Regions from separate parts of the Homo sapiens genome. Here region 1 is linked to region 2. The links come from fine-mapping of genetic effects on gene expression. A gene starts in region 2. The other region holds a variant in brackets. All regions are shown on one strand. Distances are from middle to middle. Region 1 has its middle 370 kb from the start of MAGEB16. Region 2 holds the start of TMEM47 (transmembrane protein 47).

What was found. PIP is the estimated chance that this variant, and not a neighbour inherited with it, causes the effect.
Region 1: its variant is the best candidate, but not a certain one, in a credible set for the expression of TMEM47 in tibial artery (GTEx, PIP 0.59).

Annotation. Positions count from the first base shown.
Region 1 is chrX:35,420,701-35,426,087 of GRCh38, reverse strand. No RefSeq gene overlaps it. Among named protein-coding and RNA genes, the nearest start is that of MAGEB16, 370 kb to the left of the region's middle. The variant T/C (reference allele first, on the strand shown) is at 2,253.
Region 2 is chrX:34,654,157-34,659,543 of GRCh38, reverse strand. It overlaps TMEM47 (transmembrane protein 47), which reads left to right and starts at 2,259. Exons shown (of 3, transcript NM_031442.4): 1 at 2,259-2,740. The coding sequence starts at 2,515.

The sequences.
Region 1 (5,387 bases), 770 kb before region 2:
CACCACACCCGGCTAATTTTTTGTATTTTTTTAGTAGAGACGGTGTTTCACCGTATTAGCCAGGATGGTCTTGATCTCCTGACCTCGTGATCCGCCCACCTCGGCCTCCCAAAGTGCTGGGATTACAGGCATGAGCCTCCGTGCCCGGCCGAGAGACATACTTTTTAGTAGAGATTTATAGTATTTTCAGCTAAGAGAATCTTGGTATTACTCATTTGTAATATTTCTGCCCATAATATCTGTTACACTTAAAAACACATGTATTAATATTATTTTAAGGTATTTTAAAACAAATTAATGTAATTTTAGATTCATATGCAGTGGTACAATTTAAAAAGTGAGATTCCATGTACTCTTTGTCCAATTTCCCCAATGATAACATCTTGCAAAACTATAGTAGAATATCATAACCAGAATATTTATATCTATACAGTCAAGAGAAAAAGTAGTTCTAGCACCACATTTATCTTTCATGTTGCTTTTTTATAGTCAAGCTTACCACATTCCAATTTCTACCCCCTCCTTAAACCCTGAAAACCACTAATCTATTCTCCATTTCTAATATTATGTCATTTAAAAAATGTTATATAAATGGAATTATAGAGTAAGTGGCATTTGGGGATTGGCTTGTTTTTATCTCAGAATAAGTCTCTGAAGATTCATCCAGGCTGCTGTGTGTATCAGTGGTTTATTTCCTTTTATTGCTAAGTAGTATTCCATGGTACATATACCAAATATTCTGTAATCATTCACCTGCTGAATAACATCTGAGTTGTTTCCACTTTTGACTATTACAAATAAGGCTACTATGAACTTTCATGTACAGGTATTTGAACAGAACTTTTCATTTCTTGGTGATGAATGTTCAAGAGTGTAAATGCTAGATTGTAGGGTATTTGCTTTTTTTTTAATAAGAAACCACCAAAATCTTTCCAGAGTGGTTGTGACATTTTACATTCTCACCAGCAACATTTCTGTGATCTGGTTTCTTCACATCCTTAACAACATTTGTTATTTTCACTATTTTTTATTGTAGCCATTCTGATGGGGAATATTAGAATCTCTGTTTTGTTTTTTTGTTGTTGTTTGTTTGTTTGTTTGTTTGTTTAGATGGAGTTTCTCTCTTGTTGTCCAGGCTGGAGTGCAATGGCACGATCTCGGCTCACTGCAACCTCCGCCTCCTGGGTTCAAGCAATTCTCCTCCCATAGCCTCCCAAGTAGCTGGGATTATAGGCATGCGCCACCATGCCTGGCTAACTTTGTATTTTTAGTAGAGATGGGGTTTCTCCATATTTGTCAGGCTGGTCTTGAACTCCTGACCTCAGGTGATCTGCCGACCTCGGCCTCCCAAAGTGCTGGCATTACAGGCATGAGCCACCACGCCTGGCACTCACTGTGGTTTTAAAATGAATTTTCATAATTTTTAATGCGGTTCAACATCTTTTTATATACTTATTTATACTTATTTACCCTCTCTATATATCCTCTTTAGTAAAACGTCTCTTCATGTATTTTAGCATTTCTAATCACTTAGATTAGATTTTGTTTGATTGTTATTTTTTTACTACTGAGTTTTGAGAGTTTTAATATTCTGTAGACAGTAGTAGTTCTTTGATAAATATATGGTTTGGTTTCTAATTGTTTTCTTTCCATTTGTAGCTTGTGTTTTCATTCTCTTAACATAACGTGTCACAGAAGAAAATTTTCTAATTTTAAAGAAATTTAGGTTATTTGTTTTTCTGAATTGTGCTTTTAGTCAAGTTTAGGAACACTACTTAGCTTTAGATCATAACTATTTTTACTTTTTTCTAGCAGTTCTATAGTTTTAAGCTTTATTTAAATTTGTGATCCATTTTGAGTTAATTTTTGTATGTGGTGTATGACTTAGGCTGAGATTCAATTTGAAATGGTAGCTTTGTCTCCATTGAAGTCCTGATTCACAGACATCTTTGGGAGTTTTCTACTATATGCTGCTCTCCTTGACTACCCAAGAGAAATTCTGATGTGTAGGGGTCTGAGAATAAACCCAATGCAGTCAAGGTGAAGGACCCTCTGAAGTGATGAACTTCTGAATAATGGCCTCTCAAAGATTTCCCAGCATTTGAGGCCAGGCCTCGCTTCATGTTTGGTAGTGATCCTGTCCCACACATGGGTTTAGGAAACCACATCCAGCGTCTATCATTATCTTTGTACAATAGCTCCAAGCAACTATACTTAAATCATTGCTACAACTTTGCAAAAATATGTTAGCT[T/C]TAATGTTCTCAAAAAATAATTTCATTGTTCCTGATTATAAGCTTACTCACCAAAGTAAATAATCTAGTGCTTTGATTAAATAAAGTTTAGAATCAAGTCTAATATCCATAATTCTATTAAAAAATCCTAATTCTGCCTCAATATTTATTTCTCTCTTAGATATTCAATAATTGCATTTTCTCTGCAGTGACCTTTTGCACTGAAATAAATTGCTAAAGAGTGTCTTATTGCTGACACAGATTAGAGTTTGTTGCTAATTGAATGCTAACTCCTTTTTAAGAAACTCTGAAAAAATTCCCTGATCCATAAAAGATTAATTCTAAATGAATTCAATTCACTTTCTGGCTCTACCACTTCTACTGTCATGAAATTTCTTTTATATTTTACCTTACTTCAGCCATCGCAATATTGACAGTGGCACCTGGCTTGTGACACTATGTTTTAATTGGAGCACTGACACACTCAAAAATATGTCAAGGTTTTCATGTAAGGAACAGACACTCCTCCAAAGAAAAAGTATATTCAAGAATGTCTTCTAATACAAAAGTCATTTTCAGGGAACAAGGATTTGCTCCATTTCAAAGATCAGAAAGCCAGTGCTGAAAAAGCATTCTGAGGTTTCCAAAGATAACTAAAGCCTGTGACTTCAGCTTCATCCTTAGGAATTAATTTCCTGTGTGATTTTGTATCTGGGACAACCACTCACAGAGGTCTGTGCAAAACTTTAGCAAAAGCAAAATACAACACCTCAGAAGATGTTTTGGTGGACAGAATCGCTTCAGGATCCAGAGTGCCTTCCTGTCTTGTTTGCCTTCATAGGGTAGTCCATTCCTAGTAGAAAATAGTCCTGTCCAGAGTATGGTTTAAAAATGGGGTCTGTACCTTTCTTCTGGGTCTGCATATTATATTTTGAAACACTGATAGAATATGTGTAAAAAAACATGTATATGAAAAAATGAACTGACATGTATATGACATTTACTTTCTCAAATCTCATGAAAAATTTGGAATATTTTCTTAACCAAAGTTCTTTCAATAATGCATAAATCTAGTACTTATTTAAATTATTGCTTTTGAGGAGTTGTGTAAGTTATGATGATATATAATATATACAAGATATATATATATATAGACTGTTAATTGTTTTTAAGTTATTGACTTATATGTTTAGGATAGAAAATGATGGTTTAGGACTATTAAACTGAAAATGTGGGTCATGAGATGTTTCTACTTCCATTTAGCATTTTATAATAAAAAGTGATGACACTAAATCTATATTTAAGCATCAGTTACTCCTGAACACAGCATTTAAAATGTATTATCCAAGTAGAACCTACAGGAACATGATCTGGTGACTCAGAAAAGCTTTCATTCTCTGGGACTAAAGTCAAACACTTTGAATCAGCCAGTGCGGAAGTTGCTTTAACGGGGCATTTTGACAATGTTGGTTATACAGATTCTTATTTCAATTATTTTAAGTGTATATATTTTAGTAAGTAAATGAATCTTAAGAAAGCTTGATAAATGTTTACATCTATGAAATCAGCACCAAAATCAAGATACATATCCAGCACCCAGGAAAGCTCTCCTGTGCCCACTCCTAGTTTATATACTCCAAAAGTTTTGTTTGTTTTTGAACTCGATATGAATGGAATTATAGTTTGTCCTCTTTTGTGCTTGGCCTTCTTTTGCTCAATTTTATTTATGTGAAATTCATCCATGTATTTTCAGAAATCATAAAACTATTATTGCTGAGTTATATCCCATTGTATGAATACATAACATATATTTATCCATTCACATTATGAGGTTTTTTTCCATGTATTTTGGTGCATATGTGTATGCATTTCTCTTGTATATATAGCCAAGTGTGGAATTACTGAATCCTAGAGTGTTTTTTAGCTATACTAGTTGCCAGCAAACAGTTTTCCAAAGTGTTTTTTACCAATTTACCCCTAGCCAACAACGTGCAAGAGTTCCAGTCACTCTAAATCCTTGCCAACACTTGACATTGGCAGTTCTTTTAATTTTAACTATCCTGTTGGTGGTACAGTAATCTCCTACTAAGGTTTGAACTTGCAATCCTGATGACTAATAATGTTAAACACCATTTTATATATTAATTAACAATCTGGATTGCATGCACAACTTTTAATATAAAAAGAATAATAAAGTAAATATTCTTACTTTTCTTCATGGATCTTAGATAAAATAGCTGTCAACTCACAAACTTCACTAAAACCATTCATTATTATCCCAAATTAATAAACGTGAAAGAAAGAAACCAGAATCCCATTTTTAAAAGCCACAGGTCAGCAGTGAGAAAGTACTATAACTGCTGAGCTTCATCTCAAGTAGAGCTTCTCCAATGTTTTGTTTTTTATTCTATGCTAATCAAGTCTAGAGTATGATGTCTGTCACAAATAATCATAGAAACACATTATCATACTAACTAAAGCAATTATGTCTTAAACTATGACAACTGTTAGAACAGTGTAAGGGTTAGAGGTTTAGAATGAGATTTCATAAGATATGTTGAGTGGCATTTTATTTGGTACACATAAATGTTTAATATTTTATGTTTTGGGGTATCAGATCATAACTTCATGTGAATTACTCATAATGTATATGAATATGTTATAGTACAGCAAACCATTTAGAGACATGTACTACTATAAATAAGCATGCATATAAAAAGCTCTTAATAGTTCGTTAAACCTCATAATTTGTTGGAGGCACATAAATGACAAAGACTATCCACATTTCTGAAAGCAAGGTAGAGTCTCTGCAAGAATAAGGCCCTAAATGAGGGGAAAACTCCATACTCTGGCATAAAAAGTAAGGTGGATAGTGGTGTCGAAATCTTGATAGCAATGAACCATGTTGGATGTTGGACTAAAAATGCAGTAATCCTGCACTCCATCAAGAGGTTAGAATCATCCTGGGCAACCAGGCACTTAACATTTGTCCACAAGTGCTATTGGTATGTCACCATTACTGGCTACACATATACAAATATTTCAGTAATATGCTTTTTCCTTAAAATCAGATAAATTTGACTTTAATTGGAGCAATTGAATGATGACACTTTGCAAGGTGAGTTCTGGAGTCAGACTTCAGTTTGGGTTTTTGAT
Region 2 (5,387 bases):
ATTTTTTTTCTCCAATTAATCTGCCTTTTCTCAGTTCATTTCCAGTGAACCTTCAGCAGTTGGAGAGGAAGTGTCCCTGTGCCCCTGAGTTTGCTACAAATATATGAAAAGAAAAAAAATACTTTTGAGAGTTTGTTGTATTTTGAAATTGAGGATTAGGGATGGTTGATGGGCCTATGTTGTGCAAAATTCTATAAATTATTAATAGAGGAATAGAGTTTTTTAAGGAAAATTTGGCTTTTTGTTAAAAATTGTTTACTTTTCTAGTTTTGGAGACAGTATAGAGACAATTTTTTTAGATAGTATAAAGAAGGATGGAGTAACTCAAGCAAGCAGTTGAGAACAAGCCAGAAAAAAATTAAGCAAAAATGTGGGTGGAGGTGGGGGTTGGGGTAGGGGTAGAGGGGAAAGAAAGCCTGCATTGAAGAGAATAAAGAAAACTATTGGCTAATTGGAAAATAAACTTATTAAAGAGAAGATGATAGAAGTTGGAGGCAAAATAAAGATTTCTTTATATCTTTGAGAGCACACTCAAGACATTTTCTTATTACTTTTGAATACACATTATAAATCTAGATAAAAGAACAGTCACACAATCCTGGTCACCTCTTAATTGTCCCGGTTTGTAAATTTTTCAGTGTTCCCTAATTTTTTAAGGAGAATATGCACTTAGGCTTCTTTCTAGTTGAGAAGCCAAGAAGCCCTTTGGGATTTGGAGGTTAGTGAGCTCTGGATGCTCTAGGCATTCTTTGTTAAGGGTCCTGCAATAATTAGCACGGTAATGATTGAGAGGTGGGAGAAAAGTTCCCGAAATTGTAAATATAAGAAAAGCCCGGGCGTTTATTTTACATTAGGTTTGTTCTCATTTGACACTAACTCGATTGTTTCTTAGCCCAAAATGTTGCTGCAGTCAACATGTGTTCAACCTATGGAAAGATGTGGTTGGGGAAAAATAATTTTTATCAACCAAAAGTATGAAATCTTGCAACATTGAGGATTGTGTTTCATAGAAGAGAGAACATGTTTCTTGCATTCTTCAGCTCTTAACCACTGTTTTGGGAGTCTCACCAAGTTTTTGGGATGACTAAAGATCTAGAAACATCGCCCCTCCTCATTAATGTATTCAATAAATTATTTATTTTATAGAAAAGATGGAGATGAGTCAAAGAGCTACAAGAGACAGATAACCCACCAATCACATGCTGAACCAGGCAATTACAAAATTTCAATTTCAATTTCAAGAGGTGTTTAGTCCTCACATAAGGGAGAAAATATGGTGCATCTACTTAAGAACAGGACGATGTCCTATTGTGTTGAATCCTTAGCCCTTAGATGCTCAACAAATATTTGTAGACTGCTTAGTTTACCATTCAGGAAATATACACATCACTTTTCCTATTGCAGGTCCTGGGCTAGATCTTGCTAAGGACAAGGACATCCTAATACCCAGGAGGGGAATTAGATCCAGCTTGGCATAATGCAAAGCGGAATTAATAAAGGTTTTAGCCAACACCCAAAGGGCAGAGCAGTGGAGATGGAAATAAGACTTACTTCATATTTCGCAGGAGCTCTCATTTCCTTTTTAGCGCCTGCGTTTTCAGAGCAAATGCCCTTCATAGGGGGGCGCAAAAGCAGGTGAGCCCAGAGAACAGAAGCGGCAGCAGGCTAGCGGAGAAGTGAGAAAACAGGGAAAACCGGGGGACTCCTGGGCCCGTCTGGTTTTGAAAAGAGGGCAAAATGCATTTAGTCACTTTTCTCCTCCGTCCCGCAAATCTCTCAGGATGTGAAATTGTCCGGGGAGGGGCGTGTTACATCACTGAGAGACAGAGGACCTGTCCTTGCTCCAAGAGGCACAGCTTAGGAAACCTAGGAATCCACCTCTGGCGCCTTCTAGAAAACCGCCCACTCCTGCTCCCTAAGAAAAGGAAACCCACGTGACTGGGCGAAAGGGGAGAGCCCGGCGACCTGGAGCCAGCGAGGCTGGGGGCCCGGCGAGGGCCGGGCTGGGCGCGGGGCTGCTTCAAGGAACTGCCGCGCGCTGCGAATCGGGGGCGCGGGCTGGCACTGGGCTCCGCCCGCGGGCCAGAGGCGGGGTAGGGGCGGGACAGGCGCGAGCCTCCGGCACTGGGAACTGGAGCCGAAGCCACCAAGTGCTGGCCCTCCGCCCCTCCCCGTACGGCACCGCCTCCCGCAGCCCGGGGAGGGGCCGGGGCGGAGCGAGCCCGGCCGAGCCGGGAGGAGCGGGCGCGGGCGCTGGCAGAGCGCGGCGCGGGGCCGGCGGCGAAGGTCCGGGGTGGAATCGACGTCGCTGCGGCTGCCGACGACCCACACCCGGCCGGCCGCCTCCGCAGACCCACCTTGGCCGCGCGGCAGGGGGCGCGCAGAGCCCCGAGGGAGCGAGTCCCCGCGCGTGGCAGCTCGGCGGCTTCTCCCTTCGGGAGGTCCGGCTCCCGGCTCTCCGGACCCGCCTGGCGTCCTCGCCTGCGGCGGGGCGGACGACAGCGGCGCCCAGGAATGGCTTCGGCGGGCAGCGGCATGGAGGAGGTGCGCGTGTCGGTGCTGACCCCCTTGAAGCTGGTCGGGCTGGTGTGCATCTTCCTGGCGCTGTGTCTGGACCTGGGGGCGGTGCTGAGCCCGGCCTGGGTCACAGCTGACCACCAGTACTACCTGTCGTTGTGGGAGTCCTGCCGGAAACCCGCCAGCTTGGACATCTGGCACTGCGAGTCCACGCTCAGCAGCGGTGAGGGCCTGGCGCGCCGCGACCCCTGCCTCCCGCCCCGGACTGCCCCGCGCCCCACTGCCAGGACAGTCACCGCCTGTCCCCACGTCCCCGCATCCTCTGCCCTGGCCCGTCCCACCCCGTCCAGGCCCTTCTCGGATCCTGGGGCTCCCGCCACCTCCCTGGCATCCACCCCTCTTCCCTCCCCATCCCTGGTCGCCAAACCTAAAGCGACAGCCCACGCCCTCTCCCTTCCCCGTGGCCATTCCTCCTGTTCTGGAGTAACACGTACGCTATTTTGGGTATTTGTTATCATTTGAGGCGAGAGCCATGTGGCTGTGTAAAAAAATGCGACGCCTTCCACACCCCCGTTAAAAAAGAAGCAGGCAAAAACGCCCCAACTCCACCGAGATGCTGCGGGGGTTCGCTGTTCGGTCTTCCCCACTCTTTTTCCTTCCTCTCTCGAGGACGAATTTGCCTAGTGTTCACATTTCTGCCGGTTCCACTCCACCTTATCTGCGTTTTCACCAATGTATTTCGGTTTGGATTTTATTTCCTTACGTTTTTGATGGATATGAAGAGTTGAGAGAGGGACAGGCTTGTTTTCCTTTCCTTTTTTGGTGACGCCGCCGTTGATTGTGAGTTGCCTTTCTTTCTCTGCCACTCTAAGTAACTCTTCTCTCCTCCAGACCTTTCTTTTCTCCATGAGCTACTCACAGATGCCTAGAAAGTTGTGCTTTATTCCGCCAGCGCTGAAAGCTGCAAATGGATAAGATGGGGGTGGGGAGTGGAGAATAAGGTAGCTACTGAGGCTACCAGTCCCAGGGGGCTTTACTGCTTTCCGCCCTCCCTGACCCTCCAGTTGCCTTCCCCGGCGCCCCAGTTATGCCCTTAGCAAAAATCAGTCAACTTATGATTTCTCGCTACAAACCCCTTCCTTTCTAATTTTGATTCTTCAACTGCTGGTGTCAGCGAAGAGAAAGGGAAATAAAGAGAGAGGACCTGCCGGCGATTTTCTTTCTTTCTCTCTCTTTCTCTCTCTCTCTCTCACACACACATACACAGACTCACACACACACACATAGACACCTGAGAAACTCATTACATTCCTTCCAGTTTCATGTCTTCTCTGGGACTATTTATAAAGCTTTCCTGGAAACGTTTCAAGTTGTAACAAAGTTGAAATAGCACAAAAAGCCACAAAAATCTGATTTTCTTTTGTCTTTGGTTTCCTGTTATAACACAGGAAAATTTGACCAAGTTTCTTCTGTAAATTTAATTTTGTGTTTAAAAAAGGCTTTTTCTTTGATACTACCTCAAAATTCCCATTGAAGGGTTTCCTCTTTGTTGGTTAATTCACTGTGGAGGGAACTGGTTGGCAGCAGGAGGTCAACATTTAGGTCCTTCAATTCTTTCAGGGTTGGCAGTTTACAACTAAAGATAAAATAAATCGGCAGAATTTCTTTCTTCGGTAACCAGGGGATCCAAATAAACTTTGGCGAAAATATCTCCTTTCCCCTCTTCAATAATAAAATTTATGTAGGAATGACAGCTACTGCACGACTCCTTGGCAACGTGAATGTTTTGCCCCTTTCTCTCTGTCTCCTGAAATAATAGACCCCTGATTGCATAAAGACTTTTCAGATAGGTTAGAGAAACCAGTTTCAACTCACATTTGCTTTTCAAGCCAGTACCCTTTTTTCTTGGCCAGGAATGTAGGGAATGGGGAGAAGCCAGCTCGAGTTTGCAGAGCAACATACAGTGTTTGCTAACCTTTTCTTAATTGCCTCCATACCCATTTATCTCAGCTTTTTTCCTCTCTAGTCAAGGAAATATGGAGACGCAAGCCTAATGCAAATATAGCGGTAATAGCACTCTGCAAAGTAAAAATCAAAGGCAGGCCCAGTTTGGGATTTTTCCCTGTTTATTCTACCCCCTTGCTGAAAGTCATAGCCCAGCGTATATTTCTATTTGGATTTCTGAAAATCAGCTTTCATCTTATCTTGCCTTAAAAAAATAGTTTTCAGCCCAGATAAAGTAGAATTCATAAGCAAATGGGTAAAAAGTAGAGATGATTTTGTTAGAGGTTTTCTGGAACAAGTTCTTGACTTTGTGTATATATAATAGCAGTTCATTTTTTGCTCTCCACGGTGATGGTGGGACACAGGGCGGGGGTGGAGGAAAGGAAACAAGATATGGAAAATTGCTCTGTGTCCCCACTTTACAAAATGTACTTTCTTATGTTATGTGAATTTGAAGCTTCTGTCCGCCAGTGTTTTGAAAGGAAGGGGAATGCCCGAATCAAAACCAGCAGTGCTTTTCTTGTCTGTTCCAAAGGGCAAGCAGCTTTTTTCGTCTGTTTGCTGTGTGGAGTAGCAGAAAACAGGGAGGGAAATGTCTTCTCTGAAGATTTTGAGAGATCCACATCTTTGTCTTTCAAAATAAATTACCTTGGGAGGAACCACCAAGGACACTTTTACTGAAGGCCCTTCACCAGGATCTTTAAGGCTTAATTAAAAATGTTTGTCTTAATTAGAATTAAAACTGCTGTGAAGAGGCAGGCCTGTATTTACTGAAGGAGCATTTCAGGAATGTTTCTACTCACAATAGTATGCCCTACTTAGACCCAGTTTCTACTGAAACTTTCCCCTAAGCCATTATTTTTAAA